Regions from separate parts of the Homo sapiens genome. Here regions 2, 3, 4 and 5 are each linked to region 1. The links come from fine-mapping of genetic effects on gene expression. A gene starts in region 1. Each other region holds a variant in brackets. All regions are shown on one strand. Distances are between the middles of the regions. Region 1 holds the start of ATP2C2 (ATPase secretory pathway Ca2+ transporting 2). Region 2 overlaps ATP2C2 (ATPase secretory pathway Ca2+ transporting 2). Region 3 overlaps WFDC1 (WAP four-disulfide core domain 1). Region 4 has its middle 28 kb from the start of ATP2C2. Region 5 overlaps ATP2C2 (ATPase secretory pathway Ca2+ transporting 2).

Region 1 (5,000 bases):
AGGTTTCACCGTGTTTGCCAGGATGGTGTCAATCTCCTGACCTCATGATCCGCCTGCCTCAGCCTCCCAAAGTGCTGGGATTACAGGCATGAGCCACTGCGCCCGGCCTACATTTCCCTATTATAAAGCAAATCGTTCATATGAAAGTTCTGTTAAATATAAATTTGAATGATCTGCTGTTTATGGGAGACATATTCAAAAATTTTTTGGAGTATTTGCCATGTTTCAGGCACATCATTTACCATAACCAACACTGGTGGAGCCTAATTTACCTAATTTTACACACCACAAATCTAATTTATAGGCCTGGGCAACAGAGCAAAGACCCCATCTCTACATAAAAATAAAAATTAGAAAATTAGCTGGGTGTGGTTCTGTGCACCTGTAGTCCCAGCTACTCAGGAGGGAGTATTGCTTGAACCCAGGAGTTCAAGCCTACAGTGAACTATGATCGCGCCAGTGCCCTCCAGCCTGGACTACAGAGTGAGACCTTGTCTCTAAAATGTACATGCATATATCCACCACCTAGAGTTTCCTTCTGGAATGCCCTGGGCATTTTCGAACCTAGCCCAGGAATTCCAGCCTTGACATCTCTGGGCTGGAGCGGAAGCCATGGTGATAGGATCCGAAAGGCTGGGCTTTCAAATCCTCTGCTCCGGGGATGCTGATCTGCCTGGAGAGATGACATCTGGTTAACAGCTTGGAAAAACATGAAGATGCCAACAAGGCGTTCTTCTTCCCTGGATCCAACATCATTTTAAAATCACAGAATGCCACTTGGGAAGGACCTGAGAAATAACTGAGCCAAGTTCCCATATGTTCTTTTATATTAATAATATAGAAGCGCCTGAGAGCCTGCAATGTCGGGTACCACGACATCGTACTACTACATCATACCTGTGCAAGCATTCACTCAGCCTGAACCACAGGATGCTGAGGTTGGCTGCGGGATGTCTCCTCCTTGTTCCTCTACAACACTCTTTTTTTTTTGTTTGTTTGACATGAAGTCTTGCTCTACTGCCCAGGCTGGAGTGCAGTGGCACAATCTTGGCTCCCTGCAACCTCCACCTTCCGGGTTCAAGCGATTCTCCTGCCTCAGCCTCCGAAGTAGCTGGGATTACAGGCGCATGCCAGCACACCTGGCTAATTTTTCTATTTTTACTAGTGACAGGGTTTCCCCATGTTGGCCAGGCTGGACTCGAACTCCTGACCTCAGGTGATCCGCCCACCTTGGCCTCTCAAAGTGCTGGGATTAGAGGTGTGAGCCACCTTGCCCAGCCTCCTCTACACCACTCTCCACCCTTCTTTGGATTCTCTGCCCAGGAGGCTGCATCCTTGGCGCTCTGTTGCTTTCTGGCTTTTGATCTAAGCAGTTGCCCTCTGCAGAAGTTATCAGTGCCCCAGAGCTCCCCCTCCAGGTAACTCCTCTCTCGTCTGGCCCTTCAGGCCTTGGGTGGGACCAAAGCCACTTCTCACTCTTTGCTAGTCTTCGTTAATGACACAAGCACTTCTGGTTTCTCTACGTCTTCCCCACAGCTTTGTAAAAAGTCTGTTTCTCAAACTCTCCTCAAATTACTATTTCCTACTGGGACCCTGACTCCTACGGGTAGGTAGTGACATCCCCATTTTATGGATGAGTAAACTGAGGTGGAGAGAGGTGAAGAAAATTGCCCAAGGTCGGAAAGGAACATTCCTGGGATTCAAATCTGGACTCACTCACATCAGAGGTTTGCTGTTACCATTATTCCTGCACCTTTGTTGAAACTGGGGAGTGGGGCCAGGCTGATACCGTAGCCTTTGTTTCCTTGAAAGAGGAAGATGCAGGAGATACAAGAAGGGGCACTGGAACTGCCCTGCAGGTTTTCGTGGCCTGGAGTCAACCCTCGGGAGCAATTGAGGTAGGTGGCAAATATTTGCTCAAAAGGGGTGGCTGAATTTCGTGGACAAATGCAGAGGGCACCTCCTGTAGCCCGTGAGTAACTTCCCTGTAGAGATGAGGAAGCCAGCGGAAAGGCGGGTGGCACGGACTTCCCCAGAGCTCCCCCTCTGCTAAGTGGTGGGTCTAGTTACGGATCTAGTCCTACCTGAAGCCAAAGAAAGCCCTGGAACTTCAAAGCACCCACTTGGCTGCTGGCAACTGTCTACACTGCGTATGGACTCACATACTTTGGGAGCCATTTGAGCCCAGCACCTTCTGATGATGAAGAGGAGGAGGATGGTGTCATGGGGACACCAGCACATTCTCTACTCCAAGCCCTGCTCGAGACCTTCCTGTACAGCACTGTCCGCTGGGGCCTCTCCATGTCACTGTGAAGGAGGCGCTATCGTGGTGGCCATTCTGCAGAGCAGTAAACCAAGGCGCTAAAAATATAAGAAACCTGCTCAGGTCCCACGACGAGCAAGAGCGGCGCTCATCCTGCAGACGAGGACAGGGGCCCTGACCATCCGAGACCATGCAGGCGCCAAAGGCAGCAGGGCTCTCAGTCGCTCCTGTTCCTGGACTCACTCCCAGGGCCCTGGAGGTGGGGGTCTTAGCCTTCTGCTGCTCCCCGCTCAATGACAGGCTAGGTTGCCGAGGCTCAGAAAGGCCACGTGACCCGTCCAGAGTGCACAGCCGCAGGTGTGAGTCTGACTGAGCTCCAGCCACCTCGCTCCCGGCGCCTTAGAGCCGCCCACCCTGGGTTCCTCAAGAGGATCACCTGGGGCTCGTTAAAAACCCAGCTCCCGGCGGCTCCAAACCGTGACTGGGCAGGGAGGGGTCTGGGAATCCGGATTTTAAACCAGCATTTGCTCCTCCACCTCCCCCACTCCAGGTGATTCTTAGGATCTGTAAGTTTGGGAAACAGCCCAAGCCCTGAGGCGACGCAGCCTCTCCCTGGGCCTTTCATGGCCAGCCGGCGCTGTCCCCAGAGCCCCTGGGGTCCCAGGCGAGCTCGCGGGGCGGGGCCGGGTGAGCCGGCACCTCCCTGTGCGCAGCCCCGCCCCAGGGGCGGGGCCTCACCTGCCGCGGGCAGGTAGACAGCTACCTGGTAACCGGGTCCGGCCCAGGAGGCTTGGGCGCGCGCAGCCATCCCGGGCCTCGCCGGGGACCTAGGGACGCAGGCAACGCCTGCGCCCGCTCACCATGGTCGAGGGACGCGTCTCCGAGTTCCTGAAGAAACTCGGCTTCTCGGGCGGGGGCCGCCAGTACCAGGCGCTGGAGAAGGACGAAGAGGAAGCCTTGGTGAGTCCCCGCGACTCCGCGCCGGGCGTGCGACCCGACCCCCCATCCCCTCCGTCGTAACCGTCCCCGGCCCGAGACCCCGCGTTCGCGCTGCGATCCGCGAACTCGCCCTCCTCCCCTGGCTCTGGAAAGAAGCTGTCCTCACAGCAACCGCGCTCTCATCTGCGCTCTGGCGCGGGGAGCTCAGCATGGAACCCTCACGTGAACCCATTTTGTGGTTGAGAAACTGAGGCCGAGAGTGGTTAAGTATATTCCCTAAGGGGCACGGAGCTAGGAAGTGACCTGGCTGGGAACTTAACCTAGGTTTCTCTGACTCCAGAGAATTAAAATTCCTGGGTCTCCAGACTTGGGCTGCTTTATGGATTTTTAAAACTTAAATTGGAAAATAAAATTAGAGGGATGCAAAAAACAAAAGATTGCTGAAATGTTGTAGCAATAATAGAAAGCAAAGTTGGAGCTGAGGGACCTCCCAGCCTCACTTCCTACAGTCAGGTACTTTTAGAAAGTCACTCAGAGCTGTATGCCTGCTTTGCAACCTTCAGGGACCCTCTGGGATAAAGCAGCAGGGTGCCAGGGCAGGGCGGTTCATGAGGGAACGAAGTGGCAAAGCTGTCAAATAAAGCCCCTCCTGTTCCTTGGATTCTTGGAAGCCAGGGGTGAAGCCAGGCTTGAGGGTGACCCAACACCCTTCTTTTTAGCTTCGCAAACAGAACTCGTTGCATGCTTTAAGGTCAGGGGGGCACTGAATTTCTGCAGAAGCGTTTCTCTGCACGCCAGAGGGTCGTTGCACTTTTTTTTTTTTCATTTACGCTTAAGCAGTCGTTCAAAAGTAACATTTCTGAACGAGTCCCCTGGGTTGCTAATTAGAAATATGACTTGGCGATGGCCTTTTGACCAGTGAAAGGAAACTTCAAAGGTAAACTTACCTTTTAATTAAAAAAAGAAATTAGCTGAAAAAATATTTGACTTAAAATTTTATTTTTTTCTCCCAAAGAATACTAATGGTCAAAACATTTTGTTTGTGAGATTAAGTATTCGTGCTTTTTTAAAAATAGTGTTTTGTGCTTTTTTAAAAATAGTGTTTTATACATCCCTGTTGATGTAAGAATTCTGGTCTTAGGGTGGTAGGCCACAGGACCACGTAACTAGCAGTTTTTGAGCAATCTCGATTTTTCTGAAGTGGCATGTTAATATTGATAGGATATAGAGTTCAATTAATTGGCTGTGATCCATTTCTCTGCTTCTGCGATACATTCTGCTAAAGGAGTTTGAAGTTTATTTGCCATCACAGGTTGCCTTTCCTATGTTGCCATTCCTGTTTTTTCCTTTCCATCTTTTGATTCTTGCATCAGGCCAGGTATTTTTCAAACTCTCCTGGTGTGTAGTTGGTTACCATCAGGTTTCACAGGATGTCCAGGAATGCAGGTGCATGGATGATGTAACCTCAAGGGAGATGCTGGGAGAGTTTGATCTCTGTGCCAGGTGGACTCGTCCCTCCAAAGCTTTGCAGGAGAGTTCTCAGAGGTCTGACAGGTGTTCAGCCGGTCTGTCAGTGTGCTCTCCCACCTGGCTGTGGACCGGGGTGCTCTCAGCAGCATCCTGAGGCCCTGGGTGCGTGATGATGGGCAGTGTGCAGCGCCAGGAGGCGGGTGATACCAGCACTGACACCAAAGGCCAGCTGAGAAAGAAGCCATGCTGTCTCCAGAGGCAGCCTTGTGCAAACCCAGGAAATGTGCAAACCCAGGAAATGGCAATGAAGATCGATGGGAAGTGTGAG
Region 2 (5,131 bases), 30 kb after region 1:
CTCTGGACTCTGCCCCTGCAGTCACAAAACACAGGGGAGTGAGGGAGGTCTCTGCATCCAACCCCCTCTCCCCTCCAGTGTCACTGCAGCATGGCACCCTGTCACCCCATGACTTCCTCAATCCACCTAGCTCATTCCCCAGGGACATGTGGGTGGACAGCCCTGGGCCTTCAGATGTCCAGAGCACGTGACAAAGGTTGGGGGCACATGCTAGTCCTGCCCTCAAAGGCAGGGGAATTGGTGCCTTTGATCTTTTTTTTTTTTTTGAGACAGAGTCTCACTCTGTTGCCCAGGCTGGAGTGCAGTGGCATGATCTTGGCTCATTGCAACCTCCGCCTTCCAGGTTCAAGCAATTCTCCCTGACTCTGGCTCATTGCAACCTCCGCCTTCCAGGTTCAAGCAATTCTCCCTGACTCAGCCTCCAGAGTCGCTGAGATTACAGATGCCTGCCACCATGCCTGGCTAATTTTTGTATTTTTACAAAATACCATGTTGGCCAGGCTGGTCTCGAACTCCTGACTTTAGATGATCTGCCTGCCTCAGCTTCCCAAAGTGCTGGGATTATAGGTATGAGCCACTGTGTCTGGCCCTTTTCTTCTGGATTTTTATTGTGGTAAAATATACATAACATAAAATTCACCATTTTAACCATTTTTAAGGGTATGGCTCTCTGGCATTAAGTATATTCCCATTGTTATGCAACCATCACCAATATTTGCCTCCAAAACTCTCATCTTTCCCAAAGAGACTCTGTAGTCATTAAACACTAACTCCCCAGCCCGGTTACCTCTGCTCTCCTTTCTGTCTCTGTGAGTTTGACTATTTTAGGGACCTCCTGTAACTGGAGTCCTATAGGATTTGTCCTTTCGGGTCTGGCTTATTTCACCAGGCATAACATCTTCAAGGTTCATCCATGTTGTAGCATGTGTGGGTTTTGGGCAGTCACATTGAAGGTAATTGGGCTCTTATCCTGAGAGCACTGGAATCTCTGCAAGTGTTTTCAAGCATCGGGCGTGTGTGTGTGTGTGTGTGAGATGGGATTTATGTGTTTCGAGCCAGGTGCAGTGGCTCACGCCTGTAATCTCAGCACTTTTGGAGGCTGAGGCAGGCAGATCACCTGAGGTCAGAAATTTGAGACCAGCCTGGCCAACCTGGTGAAAACCCGTCTCTACTAAAAATACAAAAACAAATTAGTGAGGCGTGGCGGTGCGTGCCTGTAGTCCCAGCTACTGGGGAGGGTGAGGCAGGAGACTCGCTTGAACCCGGGAGGAGGAGGTTGTAGTGAGCCGAGGTCGCACCACTGCACTCCAGCCTGGGTGACAGAGTGAGGCTCTATCTCAAAAAAAAAAAAAAAAAAAAAAAGGAAAAGTGAATTCGGTGTAGTGAGTCACAAATGGCAAGGCTGAGGGCAGCTGAGTGAGTGTGGGGGATGGGGGGAGTGCCCAGCCTGCCTCCACCTGTGGTGTGCGCAAGAATCAAGCACTTTATTTGGTACGACGGGAGCAGATCTTGAGAATGGGGGGAAAAGTCTTGTGCAATCCACATTTTTCTTTGAAGTAACTCTACAAAGAATGCAATGTTGACTTAAGGAGGGCTCCCAATGGATGGCTAAGCCTGCTTAAAGATCTGCGTAATCGCTGCTGTGCTCCTGGGCACTGGGCATGAGTGAGAAGCAGCCGCATGAAACCGAGGTGGGTAGCACAGCTTTTCTAAGCAAATAGGCATTTGGGAGGAGATGGTTTGGGGTTGGGGAGGGCGGCTGTCAAGAAGGAAGAGTGGGATTTGCAATCTCTATTACAGCTAAAGGAGGAAGTTACTCAATACCTCTCCTGCTTCCTTTTTCCCAGTTTCCAGTAACCTGGTGGAAAAGGAAAAGATGATTATCACATCCTGGGTATCAGGATGCTAGGAATGGTTTTGCAAAAATACCTCACACTTTTCCGCTTCTGAGGTCTCCTTTGTATTAGCAAAGCCTCCCGAAGCCTCCAGGTGTTTCACGTGGCTTCTTTCCAGGCCCGCAGGTCTCAACACAGAGTGCTGGGACTTCCAGAACTTGGTTGTGTTTCCCCTCCCCTTTTCTTTGGTTATTTAAAATGTCCCATAGAACCAGGCTGTGATACCACCTATCATCAGTAGGAGGCACTCTCTGCAATATGGTGCATACTTGATGGAGAATCCTGGAAGTTCGAGGTTCAGGATTCTACATATGTATATTGTTGCCCTACTCTGTCCACTTACAAGTTTCAATTCTGTAAAATAAGTTCGCTCAGCCTGGGCAACATAGGGAGACCCTGTCCCTACAAAATATTAAAAAATTAGCCAGGCACAATAGCATGCACCTGTGGTCCTGCTATTCAGGAGGCTGAAGCAGGAGGATCACCTGAGCCTGGGAGGTTGAGGCTGCAGTGAGCTATGATTGCACCACTGCACTCCAGCCTGGGTGACAAAAAAAAAAAAAAAAAACTTGCTTAAAAATAGATGCATCAGTATTAGCCAACAACTAACAACTGGAACCCAGATATTCATCAACAGGAGAACAAATACAATGTGATCTACTCATACAGTGGAATACTAAGCTGCTGTGAAAATTAGCGTACTGTTGCTACATGCATTCTCACTTGTATAAATCTCACTAACAATGTTGAGTGAAAGAAATCAGACAAGAAAGCATGTATGAGTGTATACTGCATGGCACCATTTCCATAAAGTTCAAACCCTGGCCAACCTAATCTATGAGGATTGAAACCATGACAGCAGTTACCCCTCAGGTAGGTAGGTTGGCCAAGGGAGCATCAGGGGACCAGTCATATCTGTTTCTTAATTTGGGGGCTGGTTATAAGGGTTAGTTTGTGAGCTGTACACATATGCACACTGTGTGTGTGTGTTTTATGCTTTAAAAAAAACACATGTGGCCGGGCGCAGTGGCTCCACCTTTAATCCCAGCACTTTGGGAGGCCGAGGCAAGCGGATCACCTGAGGTCAGGAGTTTGAGACCA[A/G]CCTGGCCAACATGGTGAAACCTCGTCTCTACTAAAAATACCAAAAAAATTTAGTGGGGTGTGGTGATGCGTACCTGTAATCCCAGCTACTCGGGAGGCTGAGACAGAAGAATCTCTTGAACCCGGTAAGTGGAGGTTGTGGTGAGCTGAGATCATGACACTGCACTCCAGCCTGGGTGACAGAGTGAGACTCCATCTCAAAAAAATAAACTAATAAAAATAAAAAATAAATTTAAAAATTAATCAGTACAAAAGTTCAATCCGCTAAACAGCAACCCTGCTCTTTTCACAGATTGATGAACAGAGTGAGCTGAAAGCCATCGAGAAAGAGAAGAAGGTGACAGCCCTGCCCCCCAAGGAAGCGTGCAAATGCCAGAAAGAGGATTTGGCCAGAGCGTTTTGTGTAAGAATTGAATTTGCATCTGGAGCTAATTGTGATAAGGTTTTATGTTTAAAAGAAAGCAACACAAAGCCCTGAACAGTGCTTTGAAATTCTGTGTTATTATCAATTTTATCATCAAGGTTGGAAAATATTGTTGATGTTGAATGGTTCAGATTCCACAGGTAGAATATCAGTACTTGTCAGTAGAGCTCGTCTTCACCAGGCCCTTACCGGAAGACGGCGTCCTTTGAGACACTCTGTGTACGCTGCTTCTCTTCAGCCTCACATTTCTTGGCAAAAACATAAAGGGATGGAAGATGAAGTTGAGACACAGAAAGTAGCACAGTCCAGTGTTAGAGGTAGCACAGCCCAGCGTGGAGTCCAGCTGTTTCACATGAAAGCCCAAACTCTTGGTCATCCGGTATTCCCACCGTCGTCTTTTATAATCCGTGGAGTTGCCAGGTACTAAAACCAAATTCTCCCAAGTTTCTCAAGTGAGTTTGAATTAATTCCTGGCCAGTGCAAGACAAACATTTGCATTGCACACAAGTGTGTGTGTGTGCACACGTGCGTGCACGTGCATACTCAGAACCACTACATTTTGGGAAAGCAAATAAAAAGCCCCCAGGAAAAGGGCACATACTACAATTTCAGGAAGTTGGAAGCTAGTGTCTTTTCTTGAGAATAACTCAAGTCTGTTTCAATTCAAGTCCTGTGTATTAGTATTTGGAGAGGGGGAGGAAGTATTTCTTCTCTGCCTGCATATTATCCCTAGCTAGAAAATGAGCTAGATTTTCTTTCACTATTCAAAAGAATCTAGAAATCAATTCTGTTCTCCCCGTTTCCTCTACCAGCAAGTACAGTTTTCTTGTTATTGGCTTTTTAAAAACAAGGACACTTTTGTTGCGACCAGAACAACAAAGTTTCCTTCCATTATGACTGACTCATAAATTAGCTGTATTTAACGAATTTGTTTACAGAAAGAGCTTGAATGGAGTTGGGCACAATATAATTGTTTTAGCTACTGTTTCTTTTTTATTTTTAATTTTTGTGGGTACATAGTAGGTGCATATTTATGGGTTCCAGAGATACTTTGATACAGGCATACGCTATAATAATCACATCAGGGCAAACGGGGTCTCCATTACCTCAAGCATTTATCCTTTGTGTTACAAGTCATCCACTTACACTCTTTGAGTTATTTTAAAATGTACAATTAAATTATTTTTGACAACAGTCGCCCTGTCATGCCAGCAAATACTAGGTCTTATTTATTCTTTCTGACTATATTTTTTGTACCCATAGCCCTCTCCACTTTCTCCCAACTACCCTTTCCAGGCCCTGGTAACCATCCTACTATCTCCATGAGTTCAGTTATTTTAATTTTTAGCTTCCACTAATCAGCGAGAACCTGCAAAGTTTGCCTTTCTGTGTCTGGAGGTCACTATGTTATTTGACTTAATATAATGACCTCCAGTTCCATCCATGTTGTTGCAAATGACAGGATCTCATTCTTTTTTATGGGTGCATAGTACTCCATTGTGTATATGTACCACATTTTCTTTATTCATTTGTCTGTTGATGGATACTTAGGCTCCTTCCAAACCTTGGCTATTGTGAATACTCCTGCGATAAACATGGGAGTGCAGATATCTCTTCAATATTCTGATTTCCTTTCTTTTGGTTATGTATCTAGGAGTGGGACTGGGGATCATATAATAGTTGTATTTTTAGTTTTTTGTTGTTTTTTTTT
Region 3 (5,131 bases), 42 kb before region 1:
AGACAATGGTTTTGGCCGGGCATGGCGGCTCACGCCTGTAATCCCAGCACTTTGGCAGGCTGAGGTGGGTGAATCACCTGAGGTCAGGAGTTCGAGGCCAGCCTGACCAACATGGCGATACCCCATCTCTACTCAAAATACAAAATTGACTGGGTGTGGTGGCGCATGCCTGTAATCCCAGCTACTCGGGAGGCTGAGGCAGGAGAATCACTTGAACCCAGGAGGCAGAGGTTACAGTGAGCTGAGATCATGCCACTGCACTCCAGCCTGGGCAACAGAGTGAGACTTCGTCTAAAAGAAAAAAAAAAAAGACAGTGGTTCTGAAACTTTTTGCTCTCAAGACCGCTGTACCCTGAAAGATGTTAAGGAGATCTCACAGGGCTTTCCTTTATGGGTTGATGGCTCTGGATATTATCATATTAGAAACTAGAGCTGAGACATTACAAATGCTCATGTAGCCTCTGAACAATTCCATTGTACACTAGTGAGATGGGGAGACTGAAAAACACAAGTAATTCCTCAGTGTTATTATGACAACAGTTTTGGCCTTCTAAACTCCTAAAAGAAGTTTTTTCCTCTCACTTGTTTTCCAGATGGGCGAATCCTACGACACAAACTTTACAAAGAATATCCAGGTAAAAGAAGAAACTGTTCTTTCTTTCCAGAGGGCACAAAAAAAAGGCAGTGAAAGTTTCTTATGTGAAGAAAAAAATAAAAGCCCAGGGCTGAGATATAGGGAACAAAATGGGACCTGGGATTAAGAAACAAAATAGAAGACCTGTGGTCTGATGGTGGGCAGGGAGTTGTGAGTCACAGAGGAGCTCATGGCAAACATGACCTCATGCTGAAGAGCAGAGCCTGGAACTGCTCATATTTAAGCCTCTGCTACTTTCATTCAGAGAATTGGAAAACACGCCTGATACCACTCTTCCATTCATCCATCTAATCATCCATTGATCCATCCATCTCTCCATCTATTATTTCATCCATCCATTCATCCCTCCATCCATCTACCCACCCATCCATCTACCCACCATCCATCCATCCATCCACCGATTCATCCATCCATCCTCTCATTCATCCATTCATATATCCATCTATTCTTTCATTCATCTTCCTGTTTTTTCATCCATTCATTCCTCTATCAATCTATTCATCCATCTATTCATTCTTCCATCCATCCACCCATTCATCCATCCATCCACATATTCATCTATCTTTTCACCCACCCATCTATCCTTTTATCCACCCCTTTATTCCTTCATCCCTCCATCCATCCATCCTTTCATTTACTTACCTATTCACCAATCATCCATTCATCTATCCATCCATCCATTCATACATACATCCTTTCACTTATCCATCTATCCACCCATCTACCTTTTTTTTTTTTTTGAGATGGAGTCTCACTCTGTTGCCTAGGCTGGGGTGCACTGGAGTAATCTTGGCTCACTGCAAACTCTGCCTCCTGGGTTCAAGCAGTTCTCCTGCGTCAGCCTCCCAAATAGCTGGGATTACAGGTGTCCGCCACCATACCTGGATAATTTTTGTATTTTTAGTAGAGACGAGGTTTCACCTTGTTGGCCAGGCTGGTCTTAAACTCCTGACCTCAGGTGATCTGCCCGCCTCGGCCTCCCAAAGTGCTAGATTTACAGGCATGAGCCACTGTGCCTGGCCCCATCCACCCATCTGTCTATCCATTTATCCATCCATCCACTCATCCATCCACCCACCCATCTATGCATCCACCCACCATCCATCCACCCACCCATTCATCTATCCATTCACTCATTCATCCATTCATATATTCATCTAATCTTTCATCCATCCATTTTTTCAAGCATGCATCCATCCATCCATTCCTCCATCGATCTATTCATCCATCTGTTCATTCTTCCATCTATCCATCTATATATTCATCTATCTTTTCATCTACCCATCTATTATTTTATCCACCCTTCTATTCCTTTATCCCTCCATCCAACCATCCTTATATCCACTCATCTATTTGCCCGTACATCCATTCACCCAACCATCCATCCATCTGCCCATTCATCCATTCATGCACATATCCTTGCATTCATTCATCTATCTCTTCTTTCATCCATTCATACATCCATCCATCCACCCATCCACCCATCTACCCATCCATCCATTCACCTATGTATCCATTCATCCATCCACCCATATATCCATCTATCTATTCAGCCATCCAGCCAGCCACTATCCATCCATCTATCCATCCATCCATATATCCATCCGTCCATCCACCCACCCATCTATCCATCCATCCATCCATCCATCCATTCATCTACCCATCTATCCATCTATCCACCCACCCATATATCCATGCATCCATCCATCCATCATTTATCCATTCACCCATTCACCCATCCATCCATCCATCATTTATCCATTCACCCATCCATCCATCCATTCTCCCATCCATCTGATATGTCTTTATCAATAATTTACAGCACATATTTTCTAAGTATTACTCATCAGTCTGTGCTGGGGGTTGGAGCTACATTTGTGAACATGACAGACCCAGTCGCTGCTGTCATGCAGCTAATATCAAGCAGAAAATTCAGACATGAATATAGCCCAAGTGGTTATTTTATGA[G/T]AATAGTGACAAGCCTTCCTGACATCACATGCTGGATACTATGAGGACACCTTAGTCCAGGTTGTGAGAAAAGGCTTCCTAAGGAGGAGACATGAAAGCTCAGCCTAAAGAATAAGAAATAGTGGGCAGCAGAATGGCATGTGTGAAGCTCTTGAGGTCGGAAGCAATTTGGCCATCCCCAAAGCTGGAGTGTGTGGTGAGCTGTGGAGGTGGTGGGAGGTAAGACCAGAAACATAGACAGAGCTGGTGACACCAGCTGGGGGGCCTGGGGAGGGAGAGGAGGCACTGCAGGTGGGGACTGAGTGACCTCAGCTGGGGGAGGGAGGAGAGGGCCAGGTCACCAGGCTTCATTTGGCAGTTCCTGGTGAGCCACGGGGGGCATTAGAGCAGGAATAGATACATCTACCCCAACAGAGCTGTGTTCTTTTCACAGAAGGTGACTCAAAGAATGTGGCAGAACCTGGAAGGGGACAACAGAAGCACTTTCAGTAAAGCAACGGCAAGCAGGTGAGTGGGCAGAGAGCAAGAGTCATGGCCAGGGTAAATGTGGGCAGCCAGTGTCCTGGCAGCTTTCACCACCAGGTTGAGGAGCAGGAGGGTGAGAGTAGCGCTTTCCCTACTGGTAGAATTTGAAATTCCCTTCTGCAGTAAGTCCTCACCTAACGTCATCAATAGGTTCTTGGAAACTGACTTTAAATGCAACGACATACTATATGCACTGTATGCCATAGAAGCTTAACTCATTTGTTTGTTTTTTTAAGAGATGGGGTCTCACTCTGTCACCCAGGCTGGAGTGCACTGGCACAATCATTGTTCACTGCAGCCTCAGACTCCTAGGCTCAAGCCATCCTCCTGCCTCAGCTTTAGTCTCAGTAGCTGGGACTACAGACATACACCACCTCACCTGGCTAATTTTTTTTTTGTATTTTTTGTAGAGATGAGTTCTCACTATGTTACTCAGGCTGGTCTTGAACTCCTGGCCTCAAGCAGTCCTCCCACTTTGGCCTCCCAAAGTGCTGGGATTGCAGGCATGAGTCACTGTGCCTGGCCTTAACTCTTGTTTATATCCATTAGCCTATGGTAAAATTGTTTTTGTTATATAGTAGGTCATTTTGCTTAAAGTTGCAGTTTCCAATAAGCTATCCATGATGTTAAATGAGGACCTACTGCAATTTCAAGGCAGGAACGTAGGAGAACTTTGTGTGTGATCAGAAGCAGAAGCAATTCTGTATCCCTCTGAATCAAAAATCCAAGACCAGACTAGGTCGCAACTTTCCTTTTCATTCCTTTGCCTTGATGTCTCCAGGAAGTCTTGTCTATCTCTTCTCATTTCTGTCAAACAATTCTGTTGGGTGCCAACTATCTGATAGTCATGGTTCCAGCCTCTTGGTTGCTCAGCGGTAGTTCATGCCAGGGTGGTATAGTGAACAAATCCCACAGAGCCGCTGCCCTCAGGGAGGCCACATCCTGGTAGGGGACGGCTACACAAGCCAACAGATCAATCAATACAAAGACAGGTGTGGTGAAGAAGTGAACAGGCAATGTGGGGCAGAGTCCCTGGGCAGGAGCAGAGCCTGGGGCAGGGGCTGCTTCGTTTGGGGTCAGGGAAGGCCCTGTGGGGGTTGAAGTCTGAGCCAAGATCCAAGGTGAGAAGGTGCTGCTTGGGGAGGGTCTGGAGGATAGGCGCCCAGGTGGAGGGAGTTGGAAGAGTGAAAGTACTGAGGCAGGAGGGACGCTGGCTTTGGGGAGCCAAAGAAGGCCCCTGGGGTAGACGCAGGAAGGTGGCAGGGAGGCTGACTCCAGAGGAGGCCGCAGGTGAGGCACAGGCTTGCCCTCACGTGCCCTCAAAGGTGAGGCGTAGGTGCATGCAAAGGGCTGTGGAGTTGCAGCCCTAAACCTGAAAATCTACCCAGCCCCTGTGAATGCTGGATAGCCACAGAGGGCAAAAAGGAGCCCCTAAAAGCAGGTGACAGCCTCCCAGGACGTCGCTGAAACGCAAATGTCAGATTGCAGGTTCCAGAATCCTCCCGGAAAATCTGGAGCCCGTAGGGACTGATGCCAGCACGTCTGTTACCTGCTGATGACAGGAGCCGTCCCTGGAGTAGGTCAGATGCAGCTGAGGACTGAGCTTCTAACAGGGAAGAAGGAGGCCAGTGGATGAGGACGAGACCTTGGGAGGCAGTTGAGGATGGCAGTTTGGAAGTTGAGGCTTTTGGGTGGGCGCAGCAGCTCCCGCCTGTAATCTCAACATTTTGGGAGACCGAAGCAGGCATATGGTATAATCCCAGGAGTTCAAGCCCAGCCTGGCCTGGCCAACATGGTGAAACCCTATCTCTACAAAAAAAAATACAAAACTACCCAGGCATGGTGGTGTGCACCTGTGGTCCCAGCTACTTGGGAGGCTGTGGTGGGAGGATCACCTGAGCCTAGGGAGGTTAAGGCTGCAGTGAGCCATGTTTGCACCATTGCACTCCAGCCTGGGTGACAGAGTGAGACCCTGTTTCAAGA
Region 4 (5,131 bases), 27 kb before region 1:
AGACGGAGTCTCGCTGTGTCGCCAGGCTGGAGTGCGGTGGCATGATCTGGGCTCACTGCAACCTCCGCCTCCAGGTTCAAGCAATTCTCCTGCCTCAGCCTCCTGAGTAACTGGGACTACAAGCACACGCTGCCACACCCGGCTAATATATATATATATTTTTTGTATTTTAGTAGAGACAGTGTTTCACCATGTTGCCCAGACTGGTCGCGAACTCCTGAACTCAGGCAATCCGCCTGCCTCGGCCTCCCAAAGTGCTAGGAGTAGAGGCGTGAGCCACGGTGCCTGGCCTAAAATCCATAGTATTTCTATACACCAAAATGAACAATCTGAAAAAGAAATCAGGAAAGTAATCCCGCTTACAATAGCTAAAATTAAATACCTAGGAATAGGCCAGGCGCAGTGGCTCACACCTCTAATCCCAGCACTTTGGGAGGCCGGGGTGGGTGGATCATGAGGTCAGGAGTTCAAGACCAGCCTAGCCAACATGGTGAAACGCTGTCTCTACTAAAAATACAAAAATTAGCCGGACGTGGTGGTGCATGCCTGTAATCCCAGCTACTCAGGAGGCTGAGGCAGAAGAATTGCTTGAACCTGGGAGGCAGAGGTTGCAGTAAGCTGAGATCGCGCCACTGCACTCCAGCCTGGGGGACAGAGCGAGACTCCATCTCAAAAACAAACAAACAAACAAACAAAAAAAACCTAGGAATTAACCAAAGAAGTGAAAGAGCTCGGCAATGAAAACTTTAAATCACTGATGCAAGAAATGGAAATGGACCCACCAAAAAGAGAAAGATATTCCACGTTCGTGGATTGGAAGAGTCAATGTTAAAATGTCCAAAGTATCCAAAGCAATCTACAGATTTATGCAATCCCTATCAAAATACCGATGACATTCTTCATAGAAATAAAAAAAAATCCTAAAATTATATGGAACCACAAAAGACCTAGAATAGCCAAAGCTATCCTGAGCAAAAAGAAAAAAACTGGAAGAATCACTTTACCTGACTTCATATCATACTACAGAGCCATAGTAACCAAAACAACGTGGTACTAGCATAAAAATAGACACATAGACCAATGGAACAGAATAGAGAACCCGGAAACAAATCCATACCCCTACAGTGAACTCATTTTGTTTCCACATGTACCCACAAAAAGTTTAAATTAAAAAAATTAACTCTAATATTTTTTAAGGTGAAAGCATTATAATATCAGACTGGTTAGTTGTGCTTTTTCTTTTAATTGTGTATAAAGTTGCACATGAGTTGTGGTGTCTGCTGCCTGTCGCTGTTCCAGCCTGGAACAGCCTAGAAACCGCCCCTGCTGCCTATAGTCTAGTGGGACACAGTACATGGAGAAGCAGGGATTTGAACCATGGCCTGCTGATTCCCAGGGGCTCTCCCCTTCATCATGCTGCCCCTGGGATGGCTAAAGAGCCTCCCTTCCCTCCTCCCTGGCCTTTCCTGCTTCCTCCCTGCACGGGAGGAGAGACACAGATGGATCAGTGATCGCAGGCAGATGGTGTGTGCCTGGCCCGTCTGGTCTGGGAAGCAGCTGTATGTTTTTGGCTTTGAACCTAGTACAGTTTCCCCTTGAGATCCTCCCTTGGACCTGACTGTTTTGGAGACAGATGACAGTGTCTCTCTCCTGAGCTGAAATCTGAGCAGACACCCGGCTGCCTCAGGTTGTTGGAGTGCTCTGGACTGGAGCTGAGTTCCATGGTGGCCCTACTGGTCCTTAGCTGCGTATCCCTGGACAAAGAGCTTAGCCACCCTGATCCTCAGTTTCCACTGCTTTGAAACGGGGGGTAACATCTGCCGTGCCTTCCATAGGACCAGATGAGATGAGGGTGTGAAAACGGTCAGGAAACTTACAAGGCTGGGAGGCAAAGAAACACAGAAGGGTCACTGAAGACCCCAGCCAGGGACTCAAAGGCGCTGAGAGGCTGGATGACCACTGCACTTTGGTGACGATGACAGAAACCCAGCGGGAACCAGTCGGGGCAGATGGGGCCACGTGATGAGCCGTGTGAAGGAGTGGCGAGGGGCTGTGGCCCTGGGCTGATGGGGTTCAAGACTTGGCTCTGAAAGAAGAACAAATTTGTTCCCTTTTATTGCCATTAATTGTCAAAGTCAAATTGTATTTTATACTAAGGTCATTTGGCTGGATTTTTTTCTTTAAAGAATTTTTTTAAAAAAACTTCTTGCTTTGAAATTCTGATAAATTTACAAGACATGCAAAGAAATATACAGGGAGGTCCTGGTCCCTCCACCCCTCCTCCCCCATGGTAACATCTCACACGGTTACGACATGACATCAAAACCGGGAAGGTGACGCTGGCAATCTCCATGGAGCATACTCATCTGTGTCCCACTCTGCACGGGTGTGTGTGTGCGTGCGTGTGTGTGTGTCTTTGCACGTGTGTGTAGCTCTGTGATCTTGCTGCATGAGCAACCATCACCATCAAAAGATCCTGACTGCACTGTCACCTCCTCCTCACTAGGTGGTTTTATTACCCACGTGTGGATGGAATATGAGGAAGACGGGAGTATGTGGCAATCTCCCCACGGCCTCACAGCTGGAAACTGGCGGGGCAGGTTGTTGGGACATCAGAGCCCCACCTCCCGTTCTCCCACTCTTCCAGGAACAGAAGGAGGCCAGCCCCACTTCTCTGAA[C/T]CCCTGTCTGGAGTTTTCTCTCTTGCAGCACAAGTTCTCCTGTATTGAGGAAGCAATTTCTCAGTTGCGGCCACCTCTCTAACCACCTGGGGACGGTTCCACAGCCACAGGGAGCAGGGGTGGCCAGAGGCTGAGAGGACTCTGTCCCTCCTGACAGCAAACAGGGTCTCAAAGCATGGCTGCGGGATGGGCCCCTGGGTGCTTTGGGTCCCCACTGCAAGACGGGGCACCGGGACGCTGGAAACTAGTGGGCAAGCCTGTGGGCCCCTCCAGGCCTGCTGGAGACAAAGCACCTCCCGCCATCCAAGGACCCTGAAAGCAGCTTTTTCCGTAAGGGCAAACTTAACTAAATCATCCCTTTGGGCCGGGCATGATGGCTCATGCCTATAATCCCAGCACTTTGGGAGAATGAGGTGGGAGGATTGCTTGAGCCCAGGAGTTCAAGGCCAGCCTGGGCAACAAAGTGAGACTCTGTCTCTTAAAAAAAAGAAAAAAAAATCAGGCATGGTGGTGCACAACTTCAGGTCCCAGCACAGGAGGCTGAGGTGAGAGGATCGCTTGAGCCCAGGAGGTCGAGGCTGCAGTGAGCCATGATTGTGCCACTGCACTCCAGCCTGGATGCCAAAGCAAGACCCTGTCTCAGAAAAATAATAATAATAATAATAATAATAATCCCTTTGGACTTTGGTTATTCGGATGTGGCCACATTCCCTCCCAGGTTGCTTTCCATCTGAGTTGCCAGTATAAGCTCGCACCCTGAGCCTTTTTTCTAGAACATTCTCACAGATATCAGTAAGTTGGTCCAAAGAGAAGGCAGGTGGGTTCATTTCAGGTGACTGTCTTTCAGGACAAACCTGATCTTACAGCCCCCACAGAGGTTCTTCCCGTGCAGACACCTGGAGTAGGAGCCTGAGTGAAAAGGAGCCCAGCCCCCAAAACATCCTTCCTGCAGGCCCCTGTGAGCTGCCTGAAGTTCCACCATTACAGAACCATCTTTTGTTGACAGCTGCGAGGCCTGTTAGACTGTGGACTTCTCTGGGAGAGGCTGCTGTAATCTAAGCCGTTAGGGAATCCCGCCCTTCAGTTTACGTTCTGGAGTGAAGCCACACAGGTGCGTCGCTGATCATGGCCACCGAGGTAAGAGGTAGGAGAGGGTCATACTGGGATCTGGGCCTCCAGTCGAGATGAGGAGTCAGGGCGGCCTTCCCAGAGGAGGCAACGTTTGAGCAAAGTTTCTGAGTATGAGTTTCTGTGGCTGCTGTTAACAAATGCCCACACACCAAGTGGTTTGAAACAACAGTCATGCATTCACACTGTTCTGGAGGCCAGAAAGCCAAAACCAAGGTGTTGACACGGCTGGGTCATTCCGGAGGCTCTAAGGGAGAATCCAACCCGTGCCTCTCTCCGGGCTTCGAGGGAGAATCTGCCCGGCGCCTCTCTCCCGGCTTCCGATGGCAGCCGGCCACTTCAGTACTCCCGGCCTTGAGGATGTGCCTCTCCCATCTCTGCAGCGTCTTCCCGTGGCCTTTGCCTCTGTCTCCGTGTCCCAGATTTCCCTCTGATTTCTCTTTGAAGGACACCTGTCATTGGATTTAGGGCCCTCTTAAGTCCAGGATAATCTCCTCTTGAGACCTTTAACTTCATCCCATCTGCAAAGTCCCTATTTCCAAATGAGGTCACATCCGCAGGTTCTGGGGGTTAGGACATGGGCATTCTGGGGAGACGTCATTGAACCCCCAGCAGGGAGCAAGCGGCTAGGTCAGGAGAGGGAAGAGGGGTAAAGGCATTCCAGGCAGAGGGAAGAACATTGAAAAAGGCATGGAGAAGAGAAGTTCAAGGACCTCCAAGCAGGTGGGCATGGCCAGGGAAAGGGGGCACCCAAGAGTGAGAGGATGTGGGGCTAGAAAGCTAAGCAGGTGCCAGCCGGTTCACACGCTGAGTTTGAACTTGACCCTGTTGACCTAAAGGAAAAAAAAAAAACAACGGAGGAAAAAATGACTTAATTACTTAGTTAAATTAAGTAGAGAGTTTATTTGGGCCAAGCTTGAGGATTTCAACCTGAGAGTATGGACTCAAGCTGCTCTGAATATAAAGTCCACTCAGCAGCAGTTACAAGTAGGTTTTTAAAGGAAAAAAGGAAAGGCAGTTCCCAAGCTGTTTACCAAGAATTTATATGAAAATAATAGAAACTATTGCTTGGCTAGGCATTGTTCTTTGTGTCACAAATTCCCAGAACATGAAGATAGCGGGTGAGGCAGCAAGTCAGGAACAAAATGCCTTTAACTACCCCTAGGCCTGGGGGTGACGGCATGACTGAGGTCCCACACTCTCGTCTTTCCGAGCCTGATGAATTCTGCACATCCCAGGAAGCTCAGACTCCAAGCCATTTCTTTTTTCTCACCCCTGAAAATAATGTGGAGATGCTGAAAGTTTTACCTGGGTCATTATGTCA
Region 5 (5,131 bases), 88 kb after region 1:
GGGAAGGTGGGTCCCCGGAGGCTTGGCTGGCAGTGGGGCTGGGTCACAGCTTTGAAATCTGATTCTTCGTCTTCCCCGTCTCCGTGTCCAGGTGTCCGTGTTCTTCAGGACCAGCCCAAAGCACAAGCTCAAAATCATCAAGGTTCGCTGGGCAAGGCAGGCACAGGCTGCGCTGCTGGGGCCGGGCCAGAGACACTGTGGCTCGAGGAGCTCATGCGTCCGTCGGGTGACAGTGCAGGGCCCGACCGTGGCTTCCTTCTCTAGGTCCAGGGCAGCTGCCCCGGGAGTTACCTTTTCATAGCCAGGGGGAGGGGAGGAGGTTGAGCAGGGGCGCGTGGGCAGCTCCCTTGGAGAGGACGAGGCTCTGAAGTTGCCAGCAACACTTGCGCTGACAGCCCCTTGGCCAGAACACAGTCACGGGCCCAGGTTTAGCTGCAGGGGATGCTGGGAAGTGTCATCTGTAGCTGGGCGGACACGAGCCCCACCAAACCTGGGGATAATTTTAAAGAAGATGGGAGAACTGGGGGACCTTTGCTACATACAGTGAAAACTGGGAGCTGTAATTGGATAACGTAGAGGGAAAAACTAAAAGAGAAGCTATCTTTTTTTTTTCTGGGGGTGGGGTTGTAGGTACGGAGTCTTGCTCTGTCACCTAGGCTGCAGTGCAGTGGCACAATCTCGGCTTACTTCAACCTCTGCCTCCCAGGGTTAAGCGATTCTCCTGCCTCAGTCTCCCCAAGTAGCTGGGATTGCGGTGTGCACCAGCACACCCGGCTAATGTTTGTAATTTTAGTAGAGGCAGGGTTTCGCCATGTTGGCCAGGCTGGTCTCAAACTCCTGACCTCAGGTGATCCGCCTATCTTCGCCTCCCAAAGTGCTGGGTGCTTTTTGGCTTTATTCCTTTTACTCAACTCCGTGCCTCCGTTTCCTCATCTGTAAAATGGGGGAACTATTAATGCCGTCAGCTGATTCACAGGGTTGGTAGAGAATTAAACAAAGCCAGGCCCATGAATCTCTTGGCACACAGCAGGAGCCCAATAAAGAGCTGATGTGATTTTTCTGACTCTGAATACCAAAAAAAGGTAGAAAATGTGCTTGGTTTTCTCGCCTGTGCTCTGAAAGTTTGCTCTTGAGCTCTTTTAGTAGACGGGCTTTCTTCTTTCATGTTATTTTTAGCTCTACAGAGTAAATCCCTATGTGAGTTACTCCTCAAAGAAGGTAGTAATACTTACCAGGTACCCCATGGTTTCCAGGGCCGCACTGTTGATTACTGTTTATTACTGGGACTGGATAACCTTTATGAGCCTTTACTGACCGTGCTGGGCACCGTCACATCCGTCATCTCAGTTTGGGCCTCACAACAGCCCTGGGAAGAAGAAACTGTTGCTCCCACTTTGCAGATAGGGAAACTGAGGTCAAGAGGGTCAAGGGCTCGCCCAATTCCCACAGCTAATGTGGGTGAAGCTGGGATTCGAATTCCGGGTGCCCTCCAGACAGAGGTGTCTGTGGCTGGCCACAGGGTGTGCATGGCCGGGCACTGGGAGGTGGTCGTCAGGCTGCAGGCCTTCATTGCCTGCTCTTTCCAAAGGCTCTGCAGGAGTCAGGGGCGATCGTGGCCATGACTGGGGATGGGGTGAACGACGCAGTGGCCCTGAAGTCTGCAGACATTGGGATCGCCATGGGGCAGACAGGGACGGACGTCAGCAAAGAGGCCGCCAACATGATCCTGGTGGATGATGACTTCTCAGCCATCATGTAAGCTGCCCTTCTGGTTGTTTTTCAGTTGCAAAAATGCCTGGGGTCACCAGCTTCTCCCTGGAACCTGCTACTGTGGAGATAGAGGGGGGGGTCTCGCGGAGTCCCCAGGGAGAGCTGAATCTCGGGGCTCGTCAGTGTGGCAGGTGCCCCCAACCCCAAGTACCAACAGCCTCTCATAGCAGGGTCATGGGGTCCATGATGCCTGGGGCTAGTCACATGCTGCCCCCAGGGGAATGTTACGGATATGAAGCAGAGATGGGATTTGCTGCCTGTGGGTGCATTTCATGTGGTACTGGGAATGCCCGCCTGGCTCAGGCTGGTGGGCAGCAGCTGAAT[A/C]TGTAAGGAAAACCTGTGGCCAAATACGTGCTCACACTTGAGTGTGGGGTGAGAAAGGATTAAAATGAACATCTTCCGTTTGAGGCCTGCGTGTTGATACATATATCTCAGGCATTGCAAAGAGACCTGGGCAGAAACACCCCCATCGCTGACCACGGAGGTGCTCTCTAGGTTCTGGGGCTTGCACAAAACTATTTGTTCTGTTTCACTTTTCTGTATTTTTTTCTTAATACATTTACCTTCCTAATTTTAATTAGTTCTGAGACTCTCCTCATAAGCTAATCGCAGTGGTTAGTTGGGGGTGAGGGAAAACTTTTTAAGCCTGATACAAAAAATCCAAATAAACAAATATTGAGGCTAGGTGGATCGTGCACTTTACAAAGGTGTCTCCACAGTTGATTCGCCATAGGAAGCCTTAACACACTTAGAAAAAAAAAAAAAAGTCATAGATAGCTCTTATTATTTTGAAATACGTCCCATCAATACCTAATTTATTGAGAGTTTTTAGCATGAAGGGTTGTTGAATTTTGTCAAAGGCTTTTTCTGCATCTATTGAGATAATCATGTGGTTTTTGTCTTTGGCTCTGTTTATATGCTGGATTACATTTATTGATTTGCGTATATTGAACCAGCCTTGCATCCCAGGGATGAAGCCCACTTGATCATGGTGGATAAGCTTTTTGATGTGCTGCTGGATTCGGTTTGCCAGTATTTTATTGAGGATTTTTGCATCAATGTTCATCAAGGATATTGGTCTAAAATTCTCTTTTTTGGTTGTGTCTCTGCCCGGCTTTGGTATCAGAATGATGCTGGCCTCATAAAATGAGTTAGGGAGGATTCCCTCTTTTTCTATTGATTGGAATAGTTTCAGAAGGAATGGTACCAGTTCCTCCTTGTACCTCTGGTAGAATTCGGCTGTGAATCCATCTGGTCCTGGACTCTTTTTGGTTGGTAAACTATTGATTATTGTCACAATTTCAGAGCCTGTTATTGGTCTATTCAGAGATTCAACTTCTTCCTGGTTTAGTCTTGGGAGAGTGTATGTGTCCACAGCCAATATCATACTGAATGGGCAAAAACTGGAAGCATTCCCTTTGAAAACTGGCACAAGACAGGGATGCCCTCTCTCACCGCTCCTATTCAACATAGTGTTGGAAGTTCTGGCCAGGGCAATCAGGCAGGAGAAGGAAATAAAGGGTATTCAATTAGGAAAAGAGGAAGTCAAATTGTCCCTGTTTGCAGACGACATGATTGTTTATCTAGAAAACCCCATGGTCTCAGCCCAAAATCTCCTTAAGCTGATAAGCAACTTCAGCAAAGTCTCAGGATACAAAATCAATGTACAAAAATCACAAGCATTCTTATACACCAACAACAGACAAACAGAGAGCCAAATCATGAGTGAACTCCCATTCACAATTGCTTCAAAGAGAATAAAATACCTAGGAATCCAACTTACAAGGGATGTGAAGGACCTCTTCAAGGAGAACTACAAACCACTGCTCAAGGAAATAAAAGAGGACACAAACAAATGGAAGAACATTCCATGCTCATGGGTAGGAAGAATCAATATCGTGAAAATGGCCATACTGCCCAAGGTAATTTACAGATTCAATGCCATCCCCATCAAGCTACCAATGACTTTCTTCACAGAATTGGAAAAAACTACTTTAAAGTTCATATGGAAGCAAAAAAGAGCCCGCATCGCCAAGTCAATCCTAAGCCAAAAGAACAAAGCTGGAGGCATCACACTACCTGACTTCAAACTATACTACAAGGCTACAGTAACCAAAACAGCATGGTACTGGTACCAAAACAGAGATATAGATCAATGGAACAGAACAGAGCCCTCAGAAATAATGCCGCATATCTACAACTATCTGATCTTTGACAAACCTGAGAAAAACAAGCAATGGGGAAAGGATTCCCTATTTAATAAATGGTGCTGGGAAAACTGGCTAGCCATATGTAGAAAGCTGAAACTGGATCCCTTCCTTACACCTTATACAAAAATCAATTCAAGATGGATTAAAGATTTAAACGTTAGACCTAAAACCATAAAAACCCTAGAAGAAAACCTAGGCATTACCATTCAGGACATAGGCATGGGCAAGGACTTCATGTCCAAAACACCAAAAGCAATGGCAACAAAAGCCAAAATTGACAAATGGGATCTAATTAAACTAAAGAGCTTCTGCACAGCAAAAGAAACTACCATCAGAGTGAACAGGCAACCTACAACATGGGAGAAAATTTTCACAACCTACTCATCTGACAAAGGGCTAATATCCAGAATCTACAATGAACTCAAACAAATTTACAAGAAAAAAACAAACAACCCCATCAAAAAGTGGGCGAAGGACATGAACAGACACTTCTCAAAAGAAGACATTTATGCAGCCAAAAAACACATGAAAAAATGCTCATCATCACTGGCCATCAGAGAAATGCAAATCAAAACCACTATGAGATATCATCTCACACCAGTTAGAATGGCAATCATTAAAAAGTCAGGAAACAACAGGTGCTGGAGAGGATGTGGAGAAATAGGAACACTTTTACACTGTTGGTGGGACTGTAAACTAGTTCAACCATTGTGGAAGTCAGTGTGGCGATTCCTCAGGGATCTAGAACTAGAAATACCATTTGACCCAGCCATCCCATTACTGGGTATATACCCAAAGGACTATAAATCATGCTGCTATAAAGACACATGCACACGTATGTTTATTGCGGCACTATTCACAATAGCAAAGACTTGGAACCAACCCAAATGTCCAACAATGATAGACTGGATTAAGAAAATGTGGCACATATACACCATGGAATACTATGCAGCCATAAAAAATGATGAGTTCATGTCCTTTGTAGGGACATGGATGAAATTGGAAACCATCATTCTCAGTAAACTATTGCAAGAACAAAAAACCAAACACCACATATTCTCACTCATAGGTGGGAATTGAACAATGAGATCACATGGACACAGGAAGGGGAATATCACACTCTGGGGACTGTGGTGGGGTCGGGGGAGGGG

The links. PIP is the estimated chance that this variant, and not a neighbour inherited with it, causes the effect. A credible set is the group of variants that fine-mapping cannot tell apart.
Region 2: its variant is the best candidate, but not a certain one, in a credible set for the expression of ATP2C2 in whole blood (TOPMed, PIP 0.82).
Region 3: its variant is the best candidate, but not a certain one, in a credible set for the expression of ATP2C2 in testis (GTEx, PIP 0.67).
Region 4: its variant is the best candidate, but not a certain one, in a credible set for the expression of ATP2C2 in sun-exposed skin (GTEx, PIP 0.83).
Region 5: its variant is the best candidate, but not a certain one, in a credible set for the expression of ATP2C2 in fibroblasts (GTEx, PIP 0.85).

The regions. Positions count from the first base shown.
Region 1 is chr16:84,365,492-84,370,491 of GRCh38, forward strand. ATP2C2 (ATPase secretory pathway Ca2+ transporting 2) reads left to right here and starts at 3,047. Exons shown (of 27, transcript NM_014861.4): 1 at 3,047-3,223. The coding sequence starts at 3,125.
Region 2 is chr16:84,395,211-84,400,341 of GRCh38, forward strand. ATP2C2 (ATPase secretory pathway Ca2+ transporting 2) reads left to right here. Exons shown (of 27, transcript NM_014861.4): 2 at 3,289-3,399. Among named protein-coding and RNA genes, the nearest start is that of ATP2C2, 29 kb to the left of the region's middle. The variant A/G (reference allele first, on the strand shown) is at 2,997.
Region 3 is chr16:84,323,826-84,328,956 of GRCh38, forward strand. WFDC1 (WAP four-disulfide core domain 1) reads left to right here. Exons shown (of 7, transcript NM_021197.4): 5 at 594-635; 6 at 3,057-3,130. The coding sequence ends at 3,115. Among named protein-coding and RNA genes, the nearest start is that of WFDC1, 32 kb to the left of the region's middle. The variant G/T (reference allele first, on the strand shown) is at 2,624.
Region 4 is chr16:84,337,956-84,343,086 of GRCh38, forward strand. No RefSeq gene overlaps it. Among named protein-coding and RNA genes, the nearest start is that of ATP2C2, 28 kb to the right of the region's middle. The variant C/T (reference allele first, on the strand shown) is at 2,680.
Region 5 is chr16:84,453,230-84,458,360 of GRCh38, forward strand. ATP2C2 (ATPase secretory pathway Ca2+ transporting 2) reads left to right here. Exons shown (of 27, transcript NM_014861.4): 19 at 1-6; 20 at 92-142; 21 at 1,589-1,755. Among named protein-coding and RNA genes, the nearest start is that of ATP2C2-AS1, 12 kb to the right of the region's middle. The variant A/C (reference allele first, on the strand shown) is at 2,095.